3 linked regions of the Homo sapiens genome follow. The protein of the gene in region 2 interacts with the protein of the main gene of each other region in a pairwise test. Each region holds a gene or a part of one and is shown on either strand. Other genes may lie near its edges. The genes, in order: LATS2, GRM1 and TERT.

What was found.
Region 1: the proteins of GRM1 (region 2) and LATS2 come close enough for resonance energy transfer, tested with the Homo sapiens proteins (one large-scale study listed by BioGRID).
Region 3: the proteins of GRM1 (region 2) and TERT come close enough for resonance energy transfer, tested with the Homo sapiens proteins (one large-scale study listed by BioGRID).

What each region holds. Positions count from the first base shown.
Region 1 is NC_000013.11:20,984,969-20,988,616, reverse strand, and holds part of LATS2 (serine/threonine-protein kinase LATS2), read left to right. Parts: coding exon 1-736; intron 737-3,648. UniProt on the Homo sapiens protein: Negative regulator of YAP1 in the Hippo signaling pathway that plays a pivotal role in organ size control and tumor suppression by restricting proliferation and promoting apoptosis.
Region 2 is NC_000006.12:146,431,055-146,434,702, forward strand, and holds part of GRM1 (metabotropic glutamate receptor 1 isoform alpha precursor), read left to right. Parts: intron 1-2,817; coding exon 2,818-3,648. UniProt on the Homo sapiens protein: G-protein coupled receptor for glutamate. Ligand binding causes a conformation change that triggers signaling via guanine nucleotide-binding proteins (G proteins) and modulates the activity of down-stream effectors.
Region 3 is NC_000005.10:1,288,531-1,292,178, reverse strand, and holds part of TERT (telomerase reverse transcriptase), read left to right. Parts: intron 1-3,648. UniProt on the Homo sapiens protein: Telomerase is a ribonucleoprotein enzyme essential for the replication of chromosome termini in most eukaryotes. Active in progenitor and cancer cells. Inactive, or very low activity, in normal somatic cells.

The sequences.
Region 1 (3,648 bases), on a different chromosome or scaffold from region 2:
GCCGCCGCGCGCGCACGTGGCCTTCCGGCCTGACTGCCCAGTGCCCAGCAGGACCAACTCCTTCAACAGCCACCAGCCGCGGCCCGGTCCGCCTGGCAAGGCCGAGCCCTCCCTGCCCGCCCCCAACACCGTGACGGCTGTCACGGCCGCGCACATCTTGCACCCGGTGAAGAGCGTGCGTGTGCTGAGGCCGGAGCCGCAGACGGCTGTGGGGCCCTCGCACCCCGCCTGGGTGCCCGCGCCTGCCCCGGCCCCCGCCCCCGCCCCCGCCCCGGCTGCGGAGGGCTTGGACGCCAAGGAGGAGCATGCCCTGGCGCTGGGCGGCGCAGGCGCCTTCCCGCTGGACGTGGAGTACGGAGGCCCAGACCGGAGGTGCCCGCCTCCGCCCTACCCGAAGCACCTGCTGCTGCGCAGCAAGTCGGAGCAGTACGACCTGGACAGCCTGTGCGCAGGCATGGAGCAGAGCCTCCGTGCGGGCCCCAACGAGCCCGAGGGCGGCGACAAGAGCCGCAAAAGCGCCAAGGGGGACAAAGGCGGAAAGGATAAAAAGCAGATTCAGACCTCTCCCGTTCCCGTCCGCAAAAACAGCAGAGACGAAGAGAAGAGAGAGTCACGCATCAAGAGCTACTCGCCATACGCCTTTAAGTTCTTCATGGAGCAGCACGTGGAGAATGTCATCAAAACCTACCAGCAGAAGGTTAACCGGAGGCTGCAGCTGGAGCAAGAAATGGCCAAAGTAATTTCACACTTCATTTTTACTATTTGTTCCCGGCTCATCCCTCTACTGGCAATAGGAAGCACGCACAATCCCTTTTCTGTTTCGACTGTATACCCCTTATCATCAAAACGGCTAATGGGCGACAGTCTGGTTCTGGGGCCAACAACTTGGAGAAGTTGCAAATGGTGTGACCTCCCTTTCGCCTTTCCCCTTGACTCTTCTGAAGAATCAGAGATAGCTGTGCATAATGTAGCCAGCGTAATGTAGGTAATCTACAATTTACATTGTAGGTAAATTAGCAAATTAAGTTTTAGGGTATGTCCTCGCTTAACAAAATTCATCATGGATTAATAATAGAACATTTGAATGAGTAGAAACAAAGTTTAAGGTTTTGTAAATTGAGATTGTGGGATTTTGGAAGAAAAATGTATCTAGTAGTGATTCCATTTATTCTTTTAAGTGTTTAGTTAGTAACTAATGATTTAAATATACCTTAGTTGACACTGAAGTGCTGAAGAAGGTAATTATTGATGAAACTATTTAAATTAAAATGTAACAGATTTAAATCACACAAAGCCAATAATTCCAAAGCCTGAAAACCAGATTTGTGTTCTTTTCAGTGTCCCGTATTCACTGATTTTTTTACAGATATACTTTTCATTTGTGTTTTTTTTATTTTTATTTTTTATTTTTTAATTTATTTTTAGACGGAGTCTTGCTCTGTCACCCAGGCTGGAGCGCAATGGCGCGATCTTGGCTCGCTGCAACCTCTGCCTCCTGGGTTCAAGCGATTCTCCTGCCTCAGCTTCCCGAGTAGTTGGGGTTACAGGTGCCTACCACCACGCCTGGCCATTTTTTTGTGTTTTTAGTAGAGACGGGGGTTTCGCCATGTTGGTCAGACTGGTCTCGAACTCTTGACCTCAGGTGATCTGCCCACCTCGGCCTCCCCAAGTGCTGGAATTACACGTGTGAGCCACCACACCCAGCCGTTTATTTTTTATTTATACATAGTATTTGTAGATTTGTGGGGAACATGTGATATTTTGTTACATGCATAGGATATGTAATGATCAAGTCAAGGTATTTAGAGTATCCATTGCCTGGTGTATTTATCATTTCTGTGTTGGAAGCATTTCAAGACCTCTCTTCTAGCTATTTTGAAATATTGAATACATTTTTACTAACCATAGTCATACTAGTTAGAGTTTGTTCCTTCTATCCAGCTGTATGTTTGCACCAATTAACTTCTCATCTCCCCTCAACACACACACACCCTTTCCCACCTCTGGTAACTATCATTCTACTCTCTACCTCTATGAGATCAATTATTTTAGCTCCCACATATCAGTAACAGTGTGTGGTGTTCTAACCGAACTTCTGTTCCTGGCTTATTTCACTTAACATAATGACCTCCAGTTCCATTCATGTTGCTCCAAATGACAGGATTTCATTCTTTTTTATGGCTGAATAGTATCCCATGGTGTACACAGACCACATTTTCTTTATCTGTTCATCAGTTGATGGACACTTCAGTTGATTCCATGTTTTTACTGTTGTGAATAGTGCTGCAATAAACATGGGGTGCAGGTATCCCTTTGATATACTGATTTCCTTTCCTTTAGATAAATACCCAATAATGGGTTTGGTAGATTGTATGGTAGTTCTATTTTTAGTTTCTTTTTTTTCCTTTTTGATAATAGTCGTTCTAACTGGGGAGAGATTATATCTCATTGTGGTTTTCATTTGCATTTCCCTGATGGTTAATGAGCATCTTTCCATGCACCTCTTAGCCATTTGTGTATCTTCTTTTGACAAGTGTCTATTCAGGTCATTAGCTCACTTTTTTTTCTTTTTGAGACAGAGTTTCGCTCTTGTTGCCCAGGCTGGAGTGCAATGGCACGATCTCAGCTCACCACAACCTCCGCCTCCCGGGTTCAAGTGATTCTCCTGCCTCAGCCTACCGAGCAGCTGGGATTACAGGCATGCACCACCACGCCCAGCTAGTTTTATGTTTTTGTAGAGACAGGGTTTCACCATGTTGTTCAGGCTGGTCTCAAACTTCCGACCTCAGATGATCCACCTGTCTCAGCCTCCCAGGGTGCTGGGATTACAGGTGTGAGCCACCGCGCCTGGCCTTATTTTATTTATTTATTTTTTAATTAAGACGGAGTCTTGCTCTATTGCCCAGGCTGGAGTGCAGTGGTGAAATCTCGGCTCACTGCAACCTCTGCCTTCTGGATTCAAGCTATTCTCCTGCCTCAGCCTCCTGAGAGCTGGGACTACAGGTGTGCGACACCATGCTCAGCTAATTTTTGTATGTTTAGTAGAGACGGGGTTTCACCATGTTAGTCAGGCTGGTCTCAAACTCCTGACCTCAAGTAATCCGCCTGCCTCAGCCTCCCAAAGTGCTGGGATTACAGGCGTGAGCCACCATATCTGGCCTTTTGGCTTACTTTTTAATGGGATTATTTGATATTTTTTTTGCTGTTGAGTTGAGTTCCTTGTATATTCTGAATAATAGTCTTTTGTCAGATGAATAGTTTGTGAATATTTTCTCCTGTTCAACACAGGTATCCTCTTTACTCTGTTGTTTCCTTTGCTCTGCAGAAGCTTTTTAGCTTAATATAGTCCCATTTGTCTACTTTGGGGTTTTTTTGCCTGTGCTTTTGAGATTTTAGCCATAAAAATCTTTGCTCAAACCAATGTCCTGGAGTATATTTTCATAGCCTCTGGTCTTATTTCTAGGTCTTTAATCTGTTTTAAGTTGACATTCCTATATGGTGAGAGATTGGGGTCTAGTTTCATTCTTCTGCATATGGATATCTAGTTTTCCCAGCATGTCTCTTTTTCAGTGTACATTCTTGGCACCGTTGTCAAAAATCAGGTGGCTGTAAATACGTGGACTTATTTCTGGGTTCTCTATTCTGTTC
Region 2 (3,648 bases):
TCAGTGCTGCAATGTCTGTGAGATGATACATTCCTTCTACTATGTTTGATTTTTAAAAAGCAGTTTATTTTATCCTTGAAAAAAGATTACACTAATTTTCTTAATCTGATAAATGCCCTGAGGTGTGAGATCTGTTTCCTAATTAAAAGTACTTTACAGCAAATCTAGAGCAAGACTGAGGGGAACGAAAGTTACCAGTTTTGAAGGCCATAGTGAAAATGTCCCATCTCAACAATAAAAATTGGATTTAATTAAAACAGAACTAAATTCTGATTATATCTGTCTGCAACATGATTAATAATACTGTTAACTTATGGGTGCTTTTGATTTAAAAAGAGGCCCACATAGAACCTGTGGACAATGAGGAAAACAGCCCATGTGAATGAGTGGGTGAAGTGGATCACATTAGGGCTTTCAGGAAACAAGGTACCTTTTTGCTATTATGTGTAGAAACTAAGGCAATGTGTCATTGGAACAGCTAAGCCTGCTGGTTGAATTAGAGGCAGATTATTTCTCAAGGGACCTGTTTGTTGTTGTTGTTGTTGTTGTTTTAACACACACACACACACAACTAAATAGATACAGGATAACATTTTGTTTAAGCATTTTCCTGGTGAACATTAAAAAGGCATTTCCTAATGCCTATGAAGAAGTGGGAAGATGGGGAAGGAAACATTTTTTTCATTGCAATTTAAAATGATGCAAATTATTGAGTTGGATGCTATATATAGTAAGGCATACTTAAGGAGGGTAAGAGGCAAATAAGTTTTATATTTGCCTTTCTAGAAGAGGCATATTGAATGCATAAAAAAAACAAAGTGTGTATAGTGGTAGATGATGGGGCAGTTGAAAAAGATTAAGTGGAAGATGAGTTTACCTACAGTTTTAAGCTCAGAAGAGCAACTGTGGATTCTGGTGGTGATTCTGGCTAGCTGGTTGACTACCTGTTCTTGCCAGGGACACCACTGACCTGTTCTTTAGTTTGTTTACCTCAGAAAAGAGTCAGCTATTCCAACAAGATAGTGTGGAAGTCAATAAGACAATTTTTAAAAACTTTACAAGCACTTCCACAGTCTCAGATAATGTGTAAGGCATATATTTGAAAGAAATATTAACTTTGACATAACAGAGATGAGCTTTGTCTTAGACAATTAAAAATGCAGTGTAGGGTATCAGATATATGGAGGAACTACCTATTTCTCAAATAATCAGGTCAAAACTTTAACTGTTTTATCTATTTTAGAGCCTTTATATCCAGAATTTTCTATAATCAATATCAGACATTTACACTCATCTGTACTTATCTGGCTCACTTTACTTTTCAAGATTATAAAATATGAAATGTCAAAATATTACCTTCATCATAAATGATGCTCACATATAATTTTTGAAGTATTCGTTCTTGTATTCTCAAGATGATGAAATAAACCATTATTTAAACTACTGATCATTTCCTACATTTTTTCCAAACAAAAACTAGAATATGGATTAGTCTATTTCACACCTCCACTTAAAGAAAAAAATGTCCATTTTTATATTCCTTTTAATGTCATAAATGTGTTACTATTATGCTACTTTCTCTGTCATTTTACTGAGTACAGAGAAAAAGCAAACTTCTAAAAAAAGAAAAGAAACAATTATTTCCTGATTTAAGGATTCCACCGTTGTTATTAGTAGAAGGCTATGGTAAGGTACCAACATCTGCTTAAAGTTATACAGAAAAGAAGCTGAGTCCAGAAGTGAGATCAGAGTTATTACAATAGACAGAACAGAATTTGGGGTGTAGGCCACAGTACATCTTCTTATTTTCTTATTCAGGGAGAAATTCCATATGGCTGCTTTTCTGTGGGTGCCATGAAGATGGGAGTTGATAAGGCTGGGATGCTCCTGGCACCCTAAGACTCTTCTTCACCAAGGCTCAATGAGTAGAGGTTTTCGTCTCAGTAACTGCTGCTTTGTCTCAATCATAATTTTCTCTTATTTGCATCAAACTATCCTAAAGCAGGATGTGGGCATTTGTATTTTTCCTGGCTTCCTCATTCTATTGCTTTTCAAATACAGCTATTTCAATGTTCCTAGAGTGAAAATCCCAAACCAGCTTCTGTGAGTCAGGGCCTTTGTGTGAATTGTGATCCACTGTATGTGTGAGAAATAATGCATTGAAATGTTTTAAAAAAATCAAAAGCTATGAAGCTCATAAATTGACCATGAGTCTGAGTTTTTCTGTCATCTGCTTTTTTATGTTCCTTATAGGTACCCTGTGTGATCACGCCACCCTGGTCATGGGAAATACTTGCATATGAGAATGGGCAACTGAGAGGATCTATTTTATAATCCCACAACACAACGAGAGTAGCTTTGTATGTGGGTCCTAATTTGTCCCAAGGACAATAGCCATTATTTTGGTTGTCCATGTGTAACTAAGATTTTTTTTTTAAAGTTTTCCTCCATCAGTTGGGAGTTTTTCAAAAGTGTGTGTGTGTGTGTGTGTGTGTGTGTGTGTGTCAGAGAGAGACAGAGGGAGAGGGAGAGAGTGCAACGGAGAAAAAAGAGAGGTTTGTGAAATCTTAGACCTAAATGAAAATAGCTATTTCTACAACAGACTGGCTTTTCTCCTCAACAACTTTTCTCAGGGTCAATATTTCCTTCAGCTTTTGGTGTTCTTTTTGTAAGAGGAGGTATGGGGTGCTGGAGCAAAGGCCTACAGCAGAGACAGCAGTTAAATCACACTGAGCTAGGTTTGCATATGTTTTCTATGTATTTTATCCTGTGTGCATGATCTATCTGCAAATAAATCCATCTCTATTTTATTCATAGTTCTAATGGCAAGTCTGTGTCATGGTCTGAACCAGGTGGAGGACAGGTGCCCAAGGGACAGCATATGTGGCACCGCCTCTCTGTGCACGTGAAGACCAATGAGACGGCCTGCAACCAAACAGCCGTCATCAAGCCCCTCACTAAAAGTTACCAAGGCTCTGGCAAGAGCCTGACCTTTTCAGATACCAGCACCAAGACCCTTTACAACGTAGAGGAGGAGGAGGATGCCCAGCCGATTCGCTTTAGCCCGCCTGGTAGCCCTTCCATGGTGGTGCACAGGCGCGTGCCAAGCGCGGCGACCACTCCGCCTCTGCCGTCCCACCTGACCGCAGAGGAGACCCCCCTCTTCCTGGCCGAACCAGCCCTCCCCAAGGGCTTGCCCCCTCCTCTCCAGCAGCAGCAGCAACCCCCTCCACAGCAGAAATCGCTGATGGACCAGCTCCAGGGAGTGGTCAGCAACTTCAGTACCGCGATCCCGGATTTTCACGCGGTGCTGGCAGGCCCCGGTGGTCCCGGGAACGGGCTGCGGTCCCTGTACCCGCCCCCGCCACCTCCGCAGCACCTGCAGATGCTGCCGCTGCAGCTGAGCACCTTTGGGGAGGAGCTGGTCTCCCCGCCCGCGGACGACGACGACGACAGCGAGAGGTTTAAGCTCCTCCAGGAGTACGTGTATGAGCACGAGCGGGAAGGGAACACGGAAGAAGACGAACTGGAAGAGGAGGAGGAGGACCTGCAGGCGGCCAGCAAACTGACCCCGGATGATTCGCCTGCGCTGACGCCTCCGTCGCCTTTCCGCGACTCGGTGGCCTCGGGCAGCTCGGTGCCCAGCTC
Region 3 (3,648 bases), on a different chromosome or scaffold from region 2:
GCCATGCAGACAAGGAGGGTGACCTTCTTGGGGCTCTTTTTTTTCTTTTTTTCTTTTTATGGTGGCAAAAGTCATATAACATGAGATTGGCACTCCTAACACCGTTTTCTGTGTACAGTGCAGAATTGCTAACTCGGCGGTGTTTACAGCAGGTTGCTTGAAATGCTGCGTCTTGCGTGACTGGAAGTCCCTACCCATCGAACGGCAGCTGCCTCACACCTGCTGCGGCTCAGGTGGACCACGCCGAGTCAGATAAGCGTCATGCAACCCAGTTTTGCTTTTTGTGCTCCAGCTTCCTTCGTTGAGGAGAGTTTGAGTTCTCTGATCAGGACTCTGCCTGTCATTGCTGTTCTCTGACTTCAGATGAGGTCACAATCTGCCCCTGGCTTATGCAGGGAGTGAGGCGTGGTCCCCGGGTGTCCCTGTCACGTGCAGGGTGAGTGAGGCGTTGCCCCCAGGTGTCCCTGTCACGTGTAGGGTGAGTGAGGCGCGGCCCCCGGGTGTCCCTGTCCCGTGCAGCGTGATTGAGGTGTGGCCCCCGGGTGTCCCTGTCCCGTGCAGGGTGAGTGAGGCACTGTCCCCGGGTGTCCCTGTCACGTGCAGGGTGAGTGAGGCGCGGTCCCCGGGTGTCCCTGTCACGTGTAGGGTGAGTGAGGCACTGTCCCCGGGTGTCCCTCTCAGGTGTAGGGTGAGTGAGGCGCCGTCCCCGGGTGTCCCTGTCACGTGTAGGGTGAGTGAGGCGTGGTCCCCGGGTGTCCCTGTCCCGTGCAGGGTGAGTGAGGCGCTGTCCCCGGGTGTCCCTGTCACGTGCAGGGTGAGTGAGGCGCGGTCCCCGGGTGTCCCTGTCACGTGTAGGGTGAGTGAGGCACCGTCCCTGGGTGTCCCTCCCAGGTGTAGGGTGAGTGAGGCGCTGTCCCCGGGTGTCCCTCTCAGGTGTAGGGTGAGTGAGGCGCGGCCCCAGGTGTCCCTGTCACGTGTAGGGTGAGTGAGGCACCGTCCCTGGGTGTCCCTCCCAGGTATAGGGTGAGTGAGGCACTGTCCCCGGGTGTCCCTGTCACGTGCAGGGTGAGTGAGGCGCGGTCCCCAGGTGTCCCTGTCACGTGTAGGGTGAGTGAGGCACTGTCCCCGGGTGTCCCTGTCCCGTGCAGGGTGAGTGAGGCGCGGTCCCCAGGTGTCCCTGTCCCGTGCAGGGTGAGTGAGGCGCCGTCCCCGGGTGTCCCTGTCACGTGCAGGGTGAGTGAGGCACGGCCCCCGGGTGTCCCTGTCACGTGCAGGGTGAGTGAGGCGCGGCCCCCGGGTGTCCCTGTCACGTGCAGGGTGAGTGAGGCGCGGCCCCCGGGTGTCCCTGTCACGTGCAGGGTGAGTGAGGCGCGGTCCCCGGGTGTCCCTGTCACGTGCAGGGTGAGTGAGGCGCGGTCCCCGGGTGTCCCTGTCACGTGCAGGGTGAGTGAGGCGCGGTCCCCGGGTGTCCCTGTCACGTGCAGGGTGAGTGAGGCACGGTCCCCGGGTGTCCCTGTCCCGTGTAGGGTGAGTGAGGCACTGTCCCCGGGTGTCCCTGTCACGTTCAGGGTGAGTGAGGCGCGGTCCCCGGGTGTCCCTGTCACGTGTAGGGTGAGTGAGGCACCGTCCCCGGGTGTCCCTGTCACGTGCAGGGTGAGTGAGGCGCTGTCCCCGGGTGTCCCTGTCACGTGCAGGGTGATTGACGCGAGGCCCCCGGGTGTCCCTGTCACGTGCAGGGTGAGTGAGGCGCCGTCCCCGCGTGTCCCTGTCACGTGCAGGGTGAGTGAGGCGCCGTCCCCGGGTGTCCCTGTCACGTGTAGGGTGAGTGAGGTGCCGTCCCCGGGTGTCCCTGTCACGTGTAGGGTGAGTGAGGCGCCGTCCCCGGGTGTCCCTGTCACGTTCAGGGTGAGTGAGGCACGGCCCCCGGGTGTCCCTGTCACGTGTAGGGTGAGTGAGGCGCGGTCCCCGGGTGTCACTGTCACGTGTAGGGTGAGTGAGGCACTGTCCCCGGGTGTCCCTGTCACGTGTAGGGTGAGTGAGGCGCGGCCCCCGGGTGTCCCTGTCACGTGCAGGGTGAGTGAGGCGCGGCCCCCGGGTGTCCCTGTCACGTGTAGGGTGAGTGAGGCGCGGCCCCCGGGTGTCCCTGTCACGTGCAGGGTGAGTGAGGCGCGGCCCCCGGGTGTCCCTGTCACGTGCAGGGTGAGTGAGGCGCGGCCCCCGGGTGTCCCTGTCACGTGCAGGGTGAGTGAGGCACGGCCCCCGGGTGTCCCTGTCACGTGCAGGGTGAGTGAGGCGCGGCCCCCGGGTGTCCCTGTCACTTGCAGGGTGAGTGAGGCACTGTCCCCGGGTGTCCCTGTCACGTTCAGGGTGAGTGAGGCGCGGTCCCCGGGTGTCCCTGTCACGTGTAGGGTGAATGAGGCACTGTCCCCGGGTGTCCCTGTCACGTGCAGGGTGAGTGAGGCGCCGTCCCCGGGTGTCCCTGTCACGTGCAGGGTGATTGACGCGAGGCCCCCGGGTGTCCCTGTCACGTGCAGGGTGAGTGAGGCGCCGTCCCCGCGTGTCCCTGTCACGTGCAGGGTGAGTGAGGCGCCGTCCCCGGGTGTCCCTGTCACGTGTAGGGTGAGTGAGGCGCCGTCCCCGGGTGTCCCTGTCACGTGTAGGGTGAGTGAGGCGCCGTCCCCGGGTGTCCCTGTCACGTGTAGGGTGAGTGAGGCGCCGTCCCCGGGTGTCCCTGTCACGTGTAGGGTGAGTGAGGCGCCGTCCCCGGGTGTCCCTGTCACGTGCAGGGTGAGTGAGGCCCCGTCCCCGGGTGTCCCTGTCACGTGTAGGGTGAGTGAGGCACTGTCCCCGGGTGTCTCTGTCACGTGTAGGGTGAGTGAGGCGCCGTCCCTGGGTGTCCCTCTCAGGTGTAGGGTGAGTGAGGCGCCATCCCCGGGTGTCCCTGTCACGTGTAGGGTGAGTGAGGCGCCGTCCCCGGGTGTCCCTGTCACGTGTAGGGTGAGTGAGTTGCGGCCCCCGGGTGTCCCTCTCAGGTGCAGGGTGAGTGAGGCGCTGTCCCTGGGTGTCCCTGTCTCGTGTAGGGTGAGTGAGGCTCTGTCCCCAGGTGTCCTTGGCGTTTGCTCACTTGAGCTTGCTCCTGAATGTTTGCTCTTTCTATAGCCACAGCTGCGCCGGTTGCCCATTGCCTGGGTAGATGGTGCAGGCGCAGTGCTGGTCCCCAAGCCTATCTTTTCTGATGCTCGGCTCTTCTTGGTCACCTCTCCGTTCCATTTTGCTACGGGGACACGGGACTGCAGGCTCTCGCCTCCCGCGTGCCAGGCACTGCAGCCACAGCTTCAGGTCCGCTTGCCTCTGTTGGGCCTGGCTTGCTCACCACGTGCCCGCCACATGCATGCTGCCAATACTCCTCTCCCAGCTTGTCTCATGCCGAGGCTGGACTCTGGGCTGCCTGTGTCTGCTGCCACGTGTTGCTGGAGACATCCCAGAAAGGGTTCTCTGTGCCCTGAAGGAAAGCAAGTCACCCCAGCCCCCTCACTTGTCCTGTTTTCTCCCAAGCTGCCCCTCTGCTTGGCCCCCTTGGGTGGGTGGCAACGCTTGTCACCTTATTCTGGGCACCTGCCGCTCATTGCTTAGGCTGGGCTCTGCCTC